2 separate regions of the Homo sapiens genome follow, and region 2 is linked to region 1. The links come from fine-mapping of genetic effects on gene expression. Tissue or cell type: whole blood. Region 1 holds a variant in brackets; the other region holds the start of a gene. All regions are shown on one strand. Distances are between the middles of the regions.

The links. PIP is the estimated chance that this variant, and not a neighbour inherited with it, causes the effect.
Region 2: it holds the start of DOK3, and the variant in region 1 is fine-mapped to the expression of DOK3 in whole blood (TOPMed, PIP 0.93).

Annotation. Positions count from the first base shown.
Region 1 is chr5:177,483,256-177,491,306 of GRCh38, reverse strand. PDLIM7 (PDZ and LIM domain 7) reads left to right here. Exons shown (of 13, transcript NM_005451.5): 6 at 161-297; 7 at 401-437; 8 at 1,475-1,536; 9 at 1,680-1,914; 10 at 3,059-3,239; 11 at 7,117-7,237; 12 at 7,325-7,440; 13 at 7,577-7,913. The coding sequence ends at 7,663. Among named protein-coding and RNA genes, the nearest start is that of PDLIM7, 10 kb to the left of the region's middle. RefSeq lists enhancers at 1-533, 5,860-6,575, 6,576-7,291. The variant G/C (reference allele first, on the strand shown) is at 3,367.
Region 2 is chr5:177,505,566-177,513,616 of GRCh38, reverse strand. It overlaps DOK3 (docking protein 3), which reads left to right and starts at 3,791. Exons shown (of 6, transcript NM_001308236.3): 1 at 3,791-3,859; 2 at 3,960-4,142; 3 at 5,075-5,380. The coding sequence starts at 4,077. It overlaps DDX41 (DEAD-box helicase 41), which reads left to right. Exons shown (of 17, transcript NM_016222.4): 11 at 133-264; 12 at 535-606; 13 at 741-837; 14 at 972-1,121; 15 at 1,224-1,295; 16 at 1,411-1,521; 17 at 1,690-2,040. The coding sequence ends at 1,826. RefSeq lists enhancers at 3,386-3,535, 5,356-5,405, 5,426-5,535 and a silencer at 3,666-3,805.

The DNA.
Region 1 (8,051 bases):
CTCCTGTCCTCTCACCTACCCGCCCAGCAGGGCTCCTGGCCTCACCCTTACCCACTCCCTCCCATCACTGTAACCCAAACCCACATGCACCAAATCCTGGGAGGGGCTGCCCCCACCGCCCACCCCCAGTGTGGGGTTCTGAGCCACACCCTCCCCACAGACAGCCGCTCCGACCGCTGGTCCCAGATGCCAGCAAGCAGCGGCTGATGGAGAACACAGAGGACTGGCGGCCGCGGCCGGGGACAGGCCAGTCGCGTTCCTTCCGCATCCTTGCCCACCTCACAGGCACCGAGTTCAGTAAGTGCCAGCCCAGGGCAGGGGGTACTTTCCTCGCCCCCAGCCCAGGCGTGATCCCTGACCCTGTGTCTTTTTTGGTCAATGCCTGCCTCTGCCCTCTCAGTGCAAGACCCGGATGAGGAGCACCTGAAGAAATCAAGGTACAGGGACGGGCACCAGCCCCTCTCCCACCTCCTGCCTCTTCCATTCCAGCTACTGCCCTGTGTCTACTCCTGAGGCTCCCAGCTGGGGCTCTCAATTCTCCCTTCCTTCCTTCCTTCCTTCCTTCCTTCCTTCCTTCCTTCCTTCCTTCCTTCCCTTCCTCCTTCCTTCCTTCTTTCATTTCTTCCCTCCCTCCTTCCTTCCCTCCTCCCTCCCTGCCTCCCTTCCATCTCTCCTTCCTTCCACTTCTTCCTCCCTCTCTCTCTGCCCCTCAGGGAAAAGTATGTCCTGGAGCTGCAGAGCCCACGCTACACCCGCCTCCGGGACTGGCACCACCAGCGCTCTGCCCACGTGCTCAACGTGCAGTCGTAGCCCGGCCCTCTCCAGCCGGCTGCCCTCTCTGCCTCCCTCTTTCTGTTCCTCCTGCCCAGGGCACCCCCTTAGTGCCTCCAGCTTCTGCCTACCTCACCCCCCCTTTCGTGCCCCTGGCCTGAGCCTCCTGCTGGCCTGGCCCTGGCCGCCCACCTGGGTTCATCTGACACTGCCTTCCCTCTTTGCCCTGTGGTACTGCTGTCTGCCAGGTCTGTGCTGCCTTGGGCATGGAATAAACATTCTCAGCCCTGCTTGCTCTGCCTGTCTTCTATCTTTGTGGACCTGGTTTGCATTTGGGGTGTGGGGGTGTTTCGTGGTTCGGACTGTTTGGGCCCTGCCGTCCTCGTTTTCAGTGGGAGGGGGTACCTGGCAAAGGGGCCCTGCCCTGCCATCACAGATGGCTTCCTGGCATGAGGGGAACCCCAGGAGCTGCCTCAGAAGCGGGAGCCCTGCCTCGTCTCCCAGCTAGAGACCGCACACCAGCTAACTGGACATTGCTAGGAGAAGCTGCCCTTCCCATCCCTACCCCAGTGGGACCTGGAATCCAACTCGGCAGTTTCCACGCCCCCAGTCATCTCCCGTGGGGCCAGCAGGACCCAGGTTGGGGGGTGGGGCCATGTCAGGAAGCTCAGCCATGCAGGGCCTTGAATGGCAGATCTTGCAGCCAGGTGCCCAGGACAGAAGCCCCAGCCCCAGCCTCATCTACACCCCAGGAGCCCTGGCCTGGTGAGAGGGAGTGGGCTCGGGCCTGGGCAAGGGTGGGCAGCCTCCAGGGGCATGGGGGTGGTGGGCTTCTCTCAGCTGCCTGGGGCTCCACCCCCGTCCTTTGGGGTCCCTGGGCACCCCTTTAGAGTCACTTTCCCCGGCAGGCCCTACCGCCCCCAGCCCTACCAGCCGCCCGCCCTGGGCTGTGGACCCTGCGTTTGCCGAGCGCTATGCCCCGGACAAAACGAGCACAGTGCTGACCCGGCACAGCCAGCCGGCCACGCCCACGCCGCTGCAGAGCCGCACCTCCATTGTGCAGGCAGCTGCCGGAGGGGTGCCAGGAGGGGGCAGCAACAACGGCAAGACTCCCGTGTGTCACCAGTGCCACAAGGTCATCCGGTGGGTGGCCTGTTCCTGTCCGACCCTGGCTTTCCCATCCTGCAGCCCAGCCCCACCTGTCTGCCCACCTGTCTTGCCTCAGCTGCGACTGGGGGGAATAAGGATTCAGTTCTCAGCTGGAGTAGGAGTAGGGACCTGGGCTGGGTCCTCCCATTCTTAATCCCACGCTACCTACCCCAGCCCACCCACAACAACTGCTAGCAGCATCTGCCGTGGCGAAATAGCCGAAGGGCCAACCATAGGCTGAAGCTGCACCCCTACCTTTGCTGCTCTCTGGGCAAAGAGGGGCCTGCCCCCTCCCAGCGCGTCTGCCCCTCCCTCCTGCTCTCTGTCTCCCTCTGCTCTCAGAGCATACAGGCCTGGAGCCACTCCCTCTGTGCACTGCCCCGTGGGGCCAAGCAGCATCAAACACCCCCCAGCATCAGCGTGCCGGATTCTAGAGCCTTCCTAATTCGCAGGCCTGGCCTGCTCTCATCTCTGTCAGCTCTTTTTTTTTTTTTTTTGAAACAGAGTCTCACTGTGTTGCCCACGTTGGCGTGCAGTGGCGCGATCTCGGCTCACTGCAACCTCTGCCTCCTGGGTTCAAGAGATTCTCCTGCCTCAGCCTCCTGAGTAGCTGGGATTACAGGCACCCGCCACCATGCCTGGCTAATTTTGTATTTTTAGTAGAGACGGGGTTTTACCATGTTGGCCAGGCTGGTCTCAAACTCCTCACCTCAGGTGATCTCAGGCCTGCCTTGGCCTCCCAAAGTGCTGGGACTACAGGTGTGAGCCACTGTGCCCAGCCGACTCTATCAGCTCTTGCCAGGTAGAACAGGCAGGCCAGCAGGACAGGGCAGCTCCAGGGTTTGCCCAGGGGCGGCTCAGCTTTTATGAGGCTCCAGTCGTCAGCCCTTCCTCCCGGGGTCCTCCCTGCTCTAAAGCTGCCTCTCCTGTCACCAGCAGTTCAGTGTGGCGGACTGGCTCTGTAAGCTTCACGGCTGCCACGGTCACTTCCCAAGCCTGTCTTCTATCCTATGTGGAAAATGGGGAGAATGAACTGTCCCTCCCAAGGCCTCCTGGTGGGTGGTCAGTCAACCTGAAGGGGGCCAAGACCCCCACCTCTCTGCGTGTGCTCCCTCTGACCGCTCTCGCCTCCCTGCAGGGGCCGCTACCTGGTGGCGCTGGGCCACGCGTACCACCCGGAGGAGTTTGTGTGTAGCCAGTGTGGGAAGGTCCTGGAAGAGGGTGGCTTCTTTGAGGAGAAGGGCGCCATCTTCTGCCCACCATGCTATGACGTGCGCTATGCACCCAGCTGTGCCAAGTGCAAGAAGAAGATTACAGGCGTGAGTAGGGCTGGCTGGCGGGGAGGTGGTCCCAAGCCTGTCAGTGGGAACGAGGGCTGCTGGGAAACCCACAGTCCAGGTCTCTCCCCGAGTGAGCCCTCCGGGTCCTTACCAGCGTAATAAATGG[G/C]CTGCTGTACTGGCCTCACCCTGCATTAGTCAGGATGCTCTTAACAAATGACCATGTTCCTGCTCAGAAACCGCCCAAGGCTGCAAAGAGCAGGAGGACCAAGCCAGGAGAAGCCCTGGGCCCTCCTGACTCCCACTTTGGGCTCTCCCTGCCCTGGTGAAATGACAGAACGGCCAACTTGACACGCTGAAGCTGCTCTGTCTCATGCGTCCTCCTCATTTCTGGATCCAGAGCCAGGGCTGCCAGGAGTAGCCAGAGAGCTCTGTGTGGTGATGTTCATATTAGTGAGGTTTACCTTGACCACGAGCAGTGGGAAACTCAAAATAATGGTGGCTTATTTCTCATCTAAAAACATCCCGGGGTGGGTGGTCTGGGACTGATCTGGTGGACCCAGGCTCCGCCTTGTTGCTTGACTGTTGGCAGCACCTGCTTACTTACCACTCATGGTGCAAGATGACACTTCAGCCTCCGCCAAAATGCTCACCTTCCAGCCAGCAGGAAGTCGGAAGGAGAAGAAAGGGGACAGAGCCCCATGGCGTCCATCCTTAGAGGATGCTGCCACCTGAACCTCTGCTTTCATCCTGTTGGTCAGAACCCAGTCACATGACCACACCCAGTGGCAACGGAGGCTGGGAAATATAGTCTTTATTTTGGGCACCCATGTGTCCAGCAAAACTGGGGGTTCCATCAGTCGGCAAGAATGGGAGAGTGGCCGATGCAGTGGCTGATGCTTGTATCCCAGCACTTTGGGAGGTCGAGGTGGGCAGATCACCTGAGGTCAGGAGTTCAAGACCAGCCTGGCCAATATGGTGAAACCCTGTCTCTACTAAAAATAAAAAAATTAGCTGGGTGTGCTGGCGCACCTGTAGTCCCAGCTACTTGGGAGGCTGAGGCAGGAGAATCGCTTGATCTTGAGAGGTGGAGGTTGCAGTGAGCCAAGATTGTGCCACTGCCTTCCAGCCTGGGAGACAGCAAAAAAAAAAAAAAAAAAAAAAAAAAAAAAAAAAAAGGGCCAGGCACGGTGGCTCACACCTGTAATCCCAGCACTTTGGGAGGCCGAGATGGGCGGATCACGAGGTCAGGAGATTGAGACCATCCTGGCTAACACGGTGAAACCCCATCTCTACTAAAAATACAAAAAAATTGGCCGGGCATGGTGGAGTAGTCCCAGCTACTCGGGAGGCTGAGGCAGGAGAATGGCGTGAACCTGGGAGGCAGAGCTTGCAGTGAGCCGAGATCGCGCCACTGCACTCCAGCCTGGGCGACAGAGCGAGACTCTTGTCTCAAAAAGAAAAAAAGAAAGAGAAATCTGCCTCCCAGCCTTGGGCTCCTGCCCTACCAGCCCACACCCCTGGTAGAGCCCCCTCTCCCACCAGCTCAAAGCCCAAGTTCCTTCACTGTGACCTTGTCTGCTCCTCTAAAACAGGCAACACCAGACAGTGAGAAGAGCCAGCCAGACATGGGCAGAAAACCTATTTCTGTGATCTACTGGCTGTGTGAGCAGGGGCTAGTTGCTCTCTCTGGGCCTCACTGAAGAGAAGGGTGGCACTATGCTAGGGCCGGCACGGTTGCAAGGTAGATGTAAGATGGGGTACAGGTGTTGTGGAGGGCAGAAATGCACCATCCGAAGGCTACATGTCCCCCACACTTATGTCTTGCTTGGCCCACACTGTTTCATTTTAAAATCAGTAGCAAACAATTTAAAAAATCAGAAGATTTGCCTGCATGATGCAGTGGCTCATGCCTGTAATCCCAGCACTTTGGGAGGCCAAGGTGGGAGGATTGCTTGAGCCCAGGAGTTCAAGACCAGCATGGGCACCATAGCAAGACCCCTGTTTCTACAAAAAAAAAAAAATTAGAAAATTAGCCAAGTGTGGTGGCATGCACCTGTGGTCCCAGCTACTTGGGAGGCAGAGGGAAAGTGAGATCTCCTGCTTTTTATTTCTTTATGTATAATGATAGGGTCTTGCTCTGTTGCCCAGGCTGGAGTGCAGTGGCATGATCACTGCTCACTGCAGCCTTGATCTCCTGGGCTCAGAGGATCCTCCCACCTCAGCCTCCCAAATAGCTAGGACTAGAGGTGCCCACCAGCATGCTCAGCAGATTTTTAAATCTTTTTGTAGAGATGAGGTTTTGCTATGTTGCCCAGGCTGGTCTCGAACTCCTGGCCTCGAGCGATCCTCCCACCTTGGCCTCCCAAAGCACTGGGATTACAGACGTGAGCCACTGCGCCCAGCAGATTTCTCTTTAACACCTAGATTTCAGCCTGAGCCAGGCAGGCATTCCTGAATGAACCAGTAGTACTGCTCCCAGAAGAAGAGGTCCTCCTCCGTGTGACACAGTCCCCACTTGGCCCTTGCAGGGATTGGATCTGGGATCCCTGGATTTAAACTCAGGGCCATCCTCATAACAGCCTCACAAGGCTGGGATTAGCTTCCCAGTTCACAAGGGAAGAAACCAAGACTTGAGAAGGTCAAGGTCTGGCCAGACCCACACATCTTGGACCCTCATACCGCCTCGAGGCCCCATGCTGCCCTCTGCCTGCTCCAGATGTGAATACTGCTGGCCCTGGCTGGCCCCGGCTGGCCCCGAGGGTCCTAGGGATGAACAGCCCAGCCCAGGGAGAGCTCAGCCCCTTGTGCCTCTGCCCCTTCCCACCTCCTGCGGAGGCCAGTCGACTCACCCACAAAGGGCCAGGCACTGTGGGGATAGATCAGCTAACAAAACAGTTGATGCTTCCTGCCCTTCTGGGCCTTACATTTTGGCTGGAAGAAGAGGGGAGAGGCAGACTGTAAGCAATAAGCGCAATAAGTAGGTTGCCTGGAAGTAATGTTAGATCACGTTACGGAAAACAGGAAAGAGCAGAGCGACAAGTGCTGGGGTGCGTGGTGCAGGGAAGGCAGCTGGCTGCTGCTGGTGTGGTCAGAGTGGGCCCTCATGGAGAAGACTGCATTCGAGCAGAAACTTGAAGGGGGTGAGGGGTGAGCCTAGAGATATCTGGGGCAGAGCAGTCCAGGCAGAGGGGACAGCCGGTGTCAAGCCCAGGACAGGAGTGTGCCTGGTGTGCCAGTTTCAGGCAAGAGGCCAGTGTGCAGAGGCAAGGTGAGAACGCAAGGGAGAGCAGTGGCGGAGACGGTTGGGAACGAGGTCAGACCTGCTGGCCTCCAGCCTCTGCATGGGGCTTGGCTCTTGCTGGGAGCAATGGGAAGCAGTACACAGTTTCATGCAGGGGGAGAAGGCCTGTCTTGGGTTGCAGGGGCACGCTGTGGCAGCTGGGATCAGAGAGAGGAGCTTGTAGGCCAGTTGTTATGTGGTCCCACGGGCCAGATGGCCATGGCTTACCTCACTTCAGGGAGGCTGTGAGAAGCACTCAGAATCTGGATGTGCCTTGGGGGTGGGCCCCACTGGATTTCCTGGTGGACCTGGTGTGGGGTGTGAGAGGAGGGTGTGTTTGGCTGCAGCAGACAGGAGAATGGAGTTGCCATCCGCGTGATGGGGATGGCTGTGGGAGGAGAGGTTTGGGGTGAGGGAATCAGGAACTGAGTGCTGGACATGGCAAGTCTGAAGGCGCAGTGGTCGTCCACTCAGAGACCTTGGAGTTGGAGATGGAGGTGTGGGAGTCCTGAACAGTTAGATGTAGTGTTTACCGCGAGAAGGAACAGGGCTTGCGGCCAGCCCTCCTGTGTTCCCGTGACCCAGGGCAGGGCAGGAGGGGCCTGAGCCTGCCGAGTGACTGGGACCTCCTTCCAGGAGATCATGCACGCCCTGAAGATGACCTGGCACGTGCACTGCTTTACCTGTGCTGCCTGCAAGACGCCCATCCGGAACAGGGCCTTCTACATGGAGGAGGGCGTGCCCTATTGCGAGCGAGGTACCCACTGGCCAGTGAGGGTGAGGAGGGATGGTGCATGGGGCAGGCATGAATCCAGGTCCTCTTTCTCTCTGCCCCCATTCTCAGACTATGAGAAGATGTTTGGCACGAAATGCCATGGCTGTGACTTCAAGATCGACGCTGGGGACCGCTTCCTGGAGGCCCTGGGCTTCAGCTGGCATGACACCTGCTTCGTCTGTGCGGTGAGAGCCCCGCCCCTCGAACTGAGCCCCAAGCCCACCGGCCCTCTGTTCATTCCCCAGGAGATGCAGGAGAAGTTGGGAAGGGGCCTCTCCTGCTGCCCCCAACCCCATGTGACTGGGCCTTTGCTGTCCTTAGATATGTCAGATCAACCTGGAAGGAAAGACCTTCTACTCCAAGAAGGACAGGCCTCTCTGCAAGAGCCATGCCTTCTCTCATGTGTGAGCCCCTTCTGCCCACAGCTGCCGCGGTGGCCCCTAGCCTGAGGGGCCTGGAGTCGTGGCCCTGCATTTCTGGGTAGGGCTGGCAATGGTTGCCTTAACCCTGGCTCCTGGCCCGAGCCTGGGGCTCCCTGGGCCCTGCCCCACCCACCTTATCCTCCCACCCCACTCCCTCCACCACCACAGCACACCGGTGCTGGCCACACCAGCCCCCTTTCACCTCCAGTGCCACAATAAACCTGTACCCAGCTGTGTCTTGTGTGCCCTTCCCCTGTGCATCCGGAGGGGCAGAATTTGAGGCACGTGGCAGGGTGGAGAGTAAGATGGTTTTCTTGGGCTGGCCATCTGGGTGGTCCTCGTGATGCAGACATGGCGGGCTCATGGTTAGTGGA
Region 2 (8,051 bases), 22 kb before region 1:
CCCCATGCCCCTGGCCACCCCAACCCACTGCTCATACTTTGTGGGCTGTGTCTCAGTTGCTCAGCTTCCCCAGACCCCATGCCCCTCAGCCCAGCCCTGTGTGCCCTTGGTCGCAGCCCCCCTCTTCCTCAGGGCCAGCGACAGACCCTGCTCTTCAGTGCCACCATGCCGAAGAAGATTCAGAACTTTGCTAAGAGTGCCCTTGTAAAGCCTGTGACCATCAATGTGGGGCGCGCTGGGGCTGCCAGCCTGGATGTCATCCAGGTGGGCAGGTGCTCCTGATGGGCGGTCTCTCACCTGTGGGGGCTGGATCTGACAAGTCTCCCTGAAGCTGATTGGAGCCGGGGGTCCACCTTGTGGGAACCGGGGGTTTCATTCAAAGCCCCTGACGCTTAACCAGGGCCATTTTTAGGGCACCAGCCCTTGGCGGCCAGAGGCTTCTGGTCACCTCCTGGTCCAGATGACGGGCCATGGCAGGGCTGTGGCGGGTAAGCCTAATCTCAAGATCACCTGACCTGATCTTTGTGGTGGCAGGAGGTAGAATATGTGAAGGAGGAGGCCAAGATGGTGTACCTGCTCGAGTGCCTGCAGAAGACACCCCCGCCTGTGAGTGCAGCCAGGCCAGGCCGGGGCCAGAGTCCCCAGGACCAGGGAGGGCTTTGGAGGGGACAGAGTGCCAGGGGAGGTGCGGTGGGTGCCCAGGCAGTTAGCCCCTGACTGGAGTTGGTCTTTCCGGACAGGTACTCATCTTTGCAGAGAAGAAGGCAGACGTGGACGCCATCCACGAGTACCTGCTGCTCAAGGGGGTTGAGGCCGTAGCCATCCATGGGGGCAAAGGTCAGGGTGGTGCAAGCACTGGCTTGGACCCTGCTGCAGTAGCAGTGCTTTACCTAATGCCTTCCCCTGCCTGGTTGGCCTGCCACTCCCCTGTCCCATGGTGGCTCTGACAGTGTCTGCCTGACCCTCCCCAGACCAGGAGGAACGGACTAAGGCCATCGAGGCATTCCGGGAGGGCAAGAAGGATGTCCTAGTAGCCACAGACGTTGCCTCCAAGGGCCTGGACTTCCCTGCCATCCAGCACGTCATCAATTATGACATGCCAGAGGAGATTGAGAACTATGGTAAGAGCCTGGGGCCCAAGGGCATGGGTTAGGCCGGAAAAGGGCCAAGCCAGGCCCCTAGTGTCCAGCGATGGGCCAGAGACTCTGTCCTTCTCTCTGCAGTACACCGGATTGGCCGCACCGGGCGCTCGGGAAACACAGGCATCGCCACTACCTTCATCAACAAAGCGTGTGGTGAGTCTGTTACCAGCGCCACCTTAGCTGTTCCCTGGGTCCCCTGCCTGTGGCCACCCAGGTTCTGGCCACAGAGCCCAGGATGGGCCCTGATGCTTCCCCACTCCTCCCCCAGATGAGTCAGTGCTGATGGACCTCAAAGCGCTGCTGCTAGAAGCCAAGCAGAAGGTGCCGCCCGTGCTGCAGGTGCTGCATTGCGGGGATGAGTCCATGCTGGACATTGGAGGTGACTGCAGAGCGGGATCCCCGAGTCCCCAGCCGGCAGGTGGCAAGGAGGGGTGCTGGAAGTCAGAAACGTGAAACCGGTGGACCGAGGGTGCCTAACGGGGGGCCCGAAGTCCAGGGCATGGATCCTGGTCCTTGACTTGGCTGACCCCTGTCCCCATTCCCCCAGGAGAGCGCGGCTGTGCCTTCTGCGGGGGCCTGGGTCATCGGATCACTGACTGCCCCAAACTCGAGGCTATGCAGACCAAGCAGGTCAGCAACATCGGTCGCAAGGACTACCTGGCCCACAGCTCCATGGACTTCTGAGCCGACAGTCTTCCCTTCTCTCCAAGAGGCCTCAGTCCCCAAGACTGCCACCAGTCTACACATACAGCAGCCCCCTGGACAGAATCAGCATTTCAGCTCAGCTGGCCTGGGATGGGCCAGGCTGGTCCTGGCTGCCTGTTCCCTGTGCTCTTCAGAATTACTGTTTTTGTTTCCTTTTACCCCAGCTGCCATTAAAGCCCAAACCTCTAGCCCAGCCCTGGCCCTGCCTCTGTGTTTCACCTCATCCGCCCCCTGGTTCCTGGACAGACGTCACCTCTGACCTCTGGAGCCCCTCTGAGGCAAGGCCCCAGCATCTCCCACTAGCACTGCCAACACCTGGCCTGCTGGTACTTGGCTGTGGAAGGAGCCACCGAGCTGGTGCCCGCCTCTGGGGACTCTGGGTCTCTCCACTGGGTTGTCTGAATTTATGACTCAAGGAGGGACCACATTGGCGGGCCAAGGAGAAGTGCTTGGATTCTCTGGTCTCCCTGGCCAGCTGTCATAGCTCTCAGGCCCACTCTTCCTGTCAGGGCTGTGATGTTTCAGGGACTTCTCCTGAAGCCCCTTGGGAGGCTGCTTCTTGCCTCAGGACCCCCACCCACTGCCTGCCTGTGCCAGCCACCTGGAGGGAGCCCTCCATTCCGTTGACTGAGGAGGCAGCAGATGTCATAGAACTGCCATTTAGGCCACAAGCTCTCCCTAAGCCTGCTCTGTGCCCAGCTCTGCTGAGCTGTGAGGACCTAGATGGGCCAGGGAGATGGCTGCCTGGGAAGCCGTCAGGCGAGGGGAGAGAAAGACGCACACGCAGAAACGTGGACGGCAGTCACAAGACCGCTAGCAGATGAGGCAGGATCTCAGCATCTGGTGAGAGGTAGGCAGGGACGGCACAGGCGGCCACACTTCCTCTGAGCCAGGCACTTTGCATGTATGGCCACATGCTCATTCCAGTGAGACAGCGGTTGCTCAAGCCATATTTGTCACTTGATATGTGGCATTGGGCAAGTTACTTAATTTTTCTGAGCACCGATTTCCTCACTGTTGAAATGGCGATGAGAACGCAAAGGATGTGGCGTCTGAGGTGGACGGAGCTTAGGGCTGCTTGGGCCACAGTGGGCACAGAGCTGGGTGCCAGGAGGCCTTCAGGACATATTTCCTGGCCAAGTGCATTCCCAAATGGCATTCCTTATCCTCTTCCATGTTCTCTCCCAGAGGTGGTGCTGAATGACCTGAGGCTGTTCCAGAATAAAGGTATACACACAGCCCCGCTATTGGCATCTTGCTAGGCAAGCCAACAAAAGGCGCCCCCAGCAGGAAGCAAAGCTTTAAATGAACATGTGACCTCTCCGGGGCCCCCTGGGACCTGCCACCCACACTCACGTGGTTGGGGCCATTCAGGGCTGTGGGTCCCATGTGGACTGGATGCCCAGCGTGAGTGTATACCGTGAGGGCCTTTGAGCTCTCGGACAGCGTGGAGTGGTCAAGGGAGGCCTCCAGGAGGAAGAGGTGGCCAACCGCCCCAGGCAGCACAGTGGTGAGGGGGCCCTGGAGGGGCTGGCCTGGGGGAGATGCAGGCCAGAACACACAGGTCCCTGAGTGTTGGGCTGAGGAGCCTGGGCTGCACCCCAGGAAGGGGAGAGACAGGTTGGTCTTGGGTTGTGGAGAGTGCTGCATGGAGGCCCAGTGGGGCAGTGGCCCCTGGGGGGATGCCAAAGGCTGGTGATGTTCAGTGGCTCGTGAGGTGGAGAGGAGCAGGTGAACACGAGAGAGATTTCAGGGAGAAAGAAAAGCAGCAAGATGGGGTGAGGCGCTCAAACCAGGACGCCGAGTGGGAAAGCCAGGAGTTGGCTAGAGAAGGGTCCTGGGTGGAGGCAGGGCCAGGGAGTGTCAGGCCCAGGGTGCGCAGCTGCCCGGGGCGGGACGGGGGAGGGGCGGGAACTCATGACTCGGGGAGCCAGACTGCGATCAGACGCGCGTGCCCAGCTGAACCAGGTGCGTGAGAAGGCTGCCTTCAGGTGGCCGGGGGCTCCCTCCAGGTAGGTGTGGGCACCTTGGGCAGCCAGAACCCCAGGGAGGAAATACATGCTGCCCCCAGCCCCTGAGCTGAAGACAGGCTCCCCTCCCCCCGGCCTGCAGCTGTCTCTAGACGGAGGGACGGGAAGTGGCCAGAAGGGGAAGTGTGAGGAGTTCCCGTCCAGCCTGTCATCAGTCTCCCCAGGTCTTGAAGCGGCGGCCCTGCTCCTGGCCGTGACCATGGACCCTCTGGAGACCCCTATCAAGGATGGCATCCTCTACCAGCAGCATGTCAAGTTTGGCAAGGTGGGGACCCCTGGCTGCCAGGCAGCTGCCAAGGACCAACAGTGGGTGGAGAATGCAGCCTCTGCCCCTGCCTCGGACAGCCCAGGCAGACCTGGGAGACTTGGGAAGGGAGTCAGGGTGGAGGATCCCACCCAGGTATGGGGAGTGGAATGGAGTGCGGGTGTCAGCCTGAGACGGCAGGGGCTGAGCAGGCTCTGCCAGACCCTGCCTCCGGGAGAGATGGGAAATACAGGAGTGGGAGAGGGTCGAAGGCTCAAACCTCCCAGCAGGGAAGAGCTTCACAGCCTCTGACCCATGAAATAGTGCCACCGAGGGCCCTAAATAGGGTGAGGGGCTGAGCTGGAGGAGGCCTCAAGGGTGGAGCCCCTCCCTGCAGCGGCACTGTCCTGGGAGCAAGGAGGCAGGGGGTCACCTCTCCTCGGCAGCAGCCCCACACCCCCGCAGCTCAGCTGCAGCTGCTGCCCAGGCAGATAAACCGTCAGTTTCCTTTGCTCGAAGCTATTTGCATGTTTCCTTCCTTAACAGCTTGAGGCAGAGGCCTCCCTCCCACCCCAGCTCTTGGCCTGTGGCCCAAGTGCCCCTTTTTGGGGGTGAGAGGGAACCAATATAATGGCAGTGTCTGGTGGTCTGCCCGGCCACTGGATGCTTTACAAACATGACCCAGTAGCAGTCCCAGCTCGAGTTCTCATGGCCTTTTGAGAGACGACATTGATGCTTGTGGAGGTCACAGTTAGGAAAGAGCGGGCTGGGATTTGAACCCAGGGCTGACCAATCCCAAGCATAGCCAAGGCCTCCTTACCTGGCTCCCTGAGAAACTGGGGAGCAGAGGCCCGCTCCTGGCTGGGAGCGTTTGCCGAGCAGCTTGTGCTGAGCCAAGTGGCACGGACAATCTGCCACCCAAGGGTCTTCACCCTCCCGCTCCCCTCCCGCAGAAGTGCTGGCGGAAGGTGTGGGCTCTGCTGTATGCAGGAGGCCCATCAGGCGTGGCACGGCTGGAGAGCTGGGAGGTCCGGGATGGTGGCCTGGGAGCAGCGGGTGACAGGTCGGCAGGGCCTGGCCGGCGAGGGGAGCGACGGGTCATCCGCCTGGCTGACTGTGTGTCCGTGCTGCCGGCTGACGGCGAGAGCTGCCCCCGGGACACCGGTGCCTTCCTGCTCACCACCACCGAGCGAAGCCATCTACTGGCTGCTCAGCACCGCCAGGCCTGGATGGGCCCCATCTGCCAGCTGGCCTTCCCGGTGAGTGCGGCGAGCAGGGGGGCGATTGGGCTGGGGCACCTGCCCCCGACTTGTCCACCTCCACGCTCACATCCCATCACCCAGCAAGCTCCACCGAGCACCTACAAGCCTGGGAAAAGTAAATCTATAATGACTCTCAGAGGGCCGTGCGTGCCATGGAGAAAATGGACCGCCAGGGGAGCAGGAGGAAGTGAGGGAGCGACGGGCAGGGTGGCCAGGGAAGGCCTCTCAGAGGAGGGCCCTGAATGACAGGAACCCACTGGGCAAAGGTCTGAGGACAGGGGCAGCCTGGGGAGTTGTGAACAGAGGGAGTCCCGTGGGCAGAGGCCCCGAGGCCGGACAGTGTGGGGTGTTTAAGGGCAGAAAGAAGGCGACGTGGCTGGAAGGAAAGGAGTGCAGGAGGAAGCCAACTCACAGAGCTTAGGAGAGCGGCTGAAATGCCCTAGGCCATGTGTGTGGTTTTGTTCTGAGTGAGAGGCGAAGGCTTTGGAGGGTTTAAGCCGGACATGTTTGTAAAGCCCCAAAAGGTCTGTGATGGGTCAAAAGGAAGTGAGCCTGGGGGTTCTTCAAAGAGGTAAACAGAGTTACCATGTGGCCCACAGGTCCACTCCTAGGTGTGTGCCCAAGAGAACTTGAACAGGTGTTCAAACAAAACATGTACATGTGAGGCAGGAGGATCGCATGAGCCCCAGAGGTCGAGGCTGCAGTGAGCTGTAATCGTGCCACTTCACTCCAGCCCGGGAGACAGAGCAAGACCCTATCTTAAAAAAAAACCCACATGGACATGAACGTCCATAGCAGCACTACTCACAGCCACCAGAAGGTGGAAACAGCCTACATGGCCATCAGCTGACAAATGGATAAGCAAAACGTGGTCCGTCCGCAAGATGGAATACTACTCAGCCATAAAAACAAACAAACGCCTGGCACAGTAGCTCTTGCCTGTAATCTTAGCACTTTGGGAGGCTGAGGTAGGAGGATTGCTTGAGCCTAGGAATTCAAGATCAGCCTGGGCAACATAGTGAGACCCTGTCTCAAAAAAAAAAAAGAAAAGAAGAAAGAAAGAAATGTACAGACAAGGTAACTCCATTGGGATAGAAATCAGATGAGTGTTGGCAGGAGCTGGAGGAAGGGAGAAGTGGGGAGTGGCTGCTCATGGGTACAGGGCTTCCATGTGGGATGATGGAAAAGTTCTGGAACTAGACAGTGGCAACAGTGCACAGCCTTGTGAGTATACTAAAAAGCACTGGTGGCCGGGTGCGGTGGCTCAGGCCTATAATCCCAGCACTTTGGGAGGCCGAGGCGGGCGGATCACCTGAGGTCAGAAGTTCGAGACCAGCCTCAACATGGAGAAACCCCGTCTCTACTAAAAATACAGAAGTAGCTGGGCATGGTGGTGCATGCCTGTAATGCCAGCTACTCGGGAGGCTGAGGCAGGCAGAATTGCTTGAACCTGGGAGGCAGAGGTTGCGGTGAGCCGAGATCATGCCATTGCACTCCAGCCTGGGCAACGAGAGCAAAACTCCGTCTCAAAAAAAAAAAAAAAAAAAAGAAAAGAAAAAAAAGAGCACTGATGATACACTTTAAGATGTAAAATGGGCCGGGCGTAGTGGTTCACACCTGTAATCCCAGCACTTTGGGAGGCCGAGGCAGGCGGATTACCTGAGGTCAGGAGTTCGAGACCAGCCTGGCCAACATGGTGAAACCCTATCTCTACTAAAAAAAAATTACAAAAATTAGCTGGGTGTGGTGGCACACGCCTGTAATCCCAGCTACTACTTGAGAGGCTGAGGCAGCAGAATTGCTTGAGTCTGGGAGGCAGAGGTTGCAGTGAGCTTAGATCGCACCACTGCATTCCAGCCTGGCCGACAGAGCAAGACTTTGTCTCAAAAAAAAAAAAAAAAGTAAGATGGTTAAAACAGTAAATTTTATGTTCTCTGTATTTTATCATATTTTAAAAATCAAAAAACAAAAGGCAGTTGAGGTTAGGCATGGAGGTTCGTGCCTGTAATCCCAGCACTTTGGGAAGCCGAAGCACGTGGATCACCTGAGGTCAGGAGTTCGAGACCAGCCTGCCCAATATGGTAAAACCCTGTCTCTACTAAAAATACAAAAAATTAGCCAGGCATGGTGGTGGGCACCTGTAATCCCAGCTACTTGGGAGACTGAGGCAGGAGAATCACTTAAACCCGGGAGGCGGGCTGGGCGCGGTGGCTCATGCCTGTAATCCCAGCACTTTGGGAGGCCGAGACAGGCGGATCATGAGGTCAGGAGATCGAGATCATCCTGGCTAACATGGTGAAACCCCATCTCTACTAAAAATACAAAAAAAATTAGCCAGGCCTGGTGGCGGGCACCTGTAGTCCCAGCTACTTGGGAGGCTGAGGCAGGAGAATGGCGTGAACCTGGGAGGCGGAGCTTGCAGTGAGCCAAGATCGCGCCACTGCACTCCAGCCTGGGCGACAAGAGTGAGACTCCATCTTAAAGAAAAAAAACAAACCCGGGAGGCGGAAATTGCAGTCAGCCGAGATCTCGCCATTGCACTCAAGTATGGGTGACAGAGCAAGACTCCATGTCAAAAAAAAAGGCAGTTGACAGGAGCAAGGAGCCTGGTGAGGAAGCTGTGGCATTTGACCCGGCTGTGTTGCTATGGGCCAGGGTGGTGCTAGTA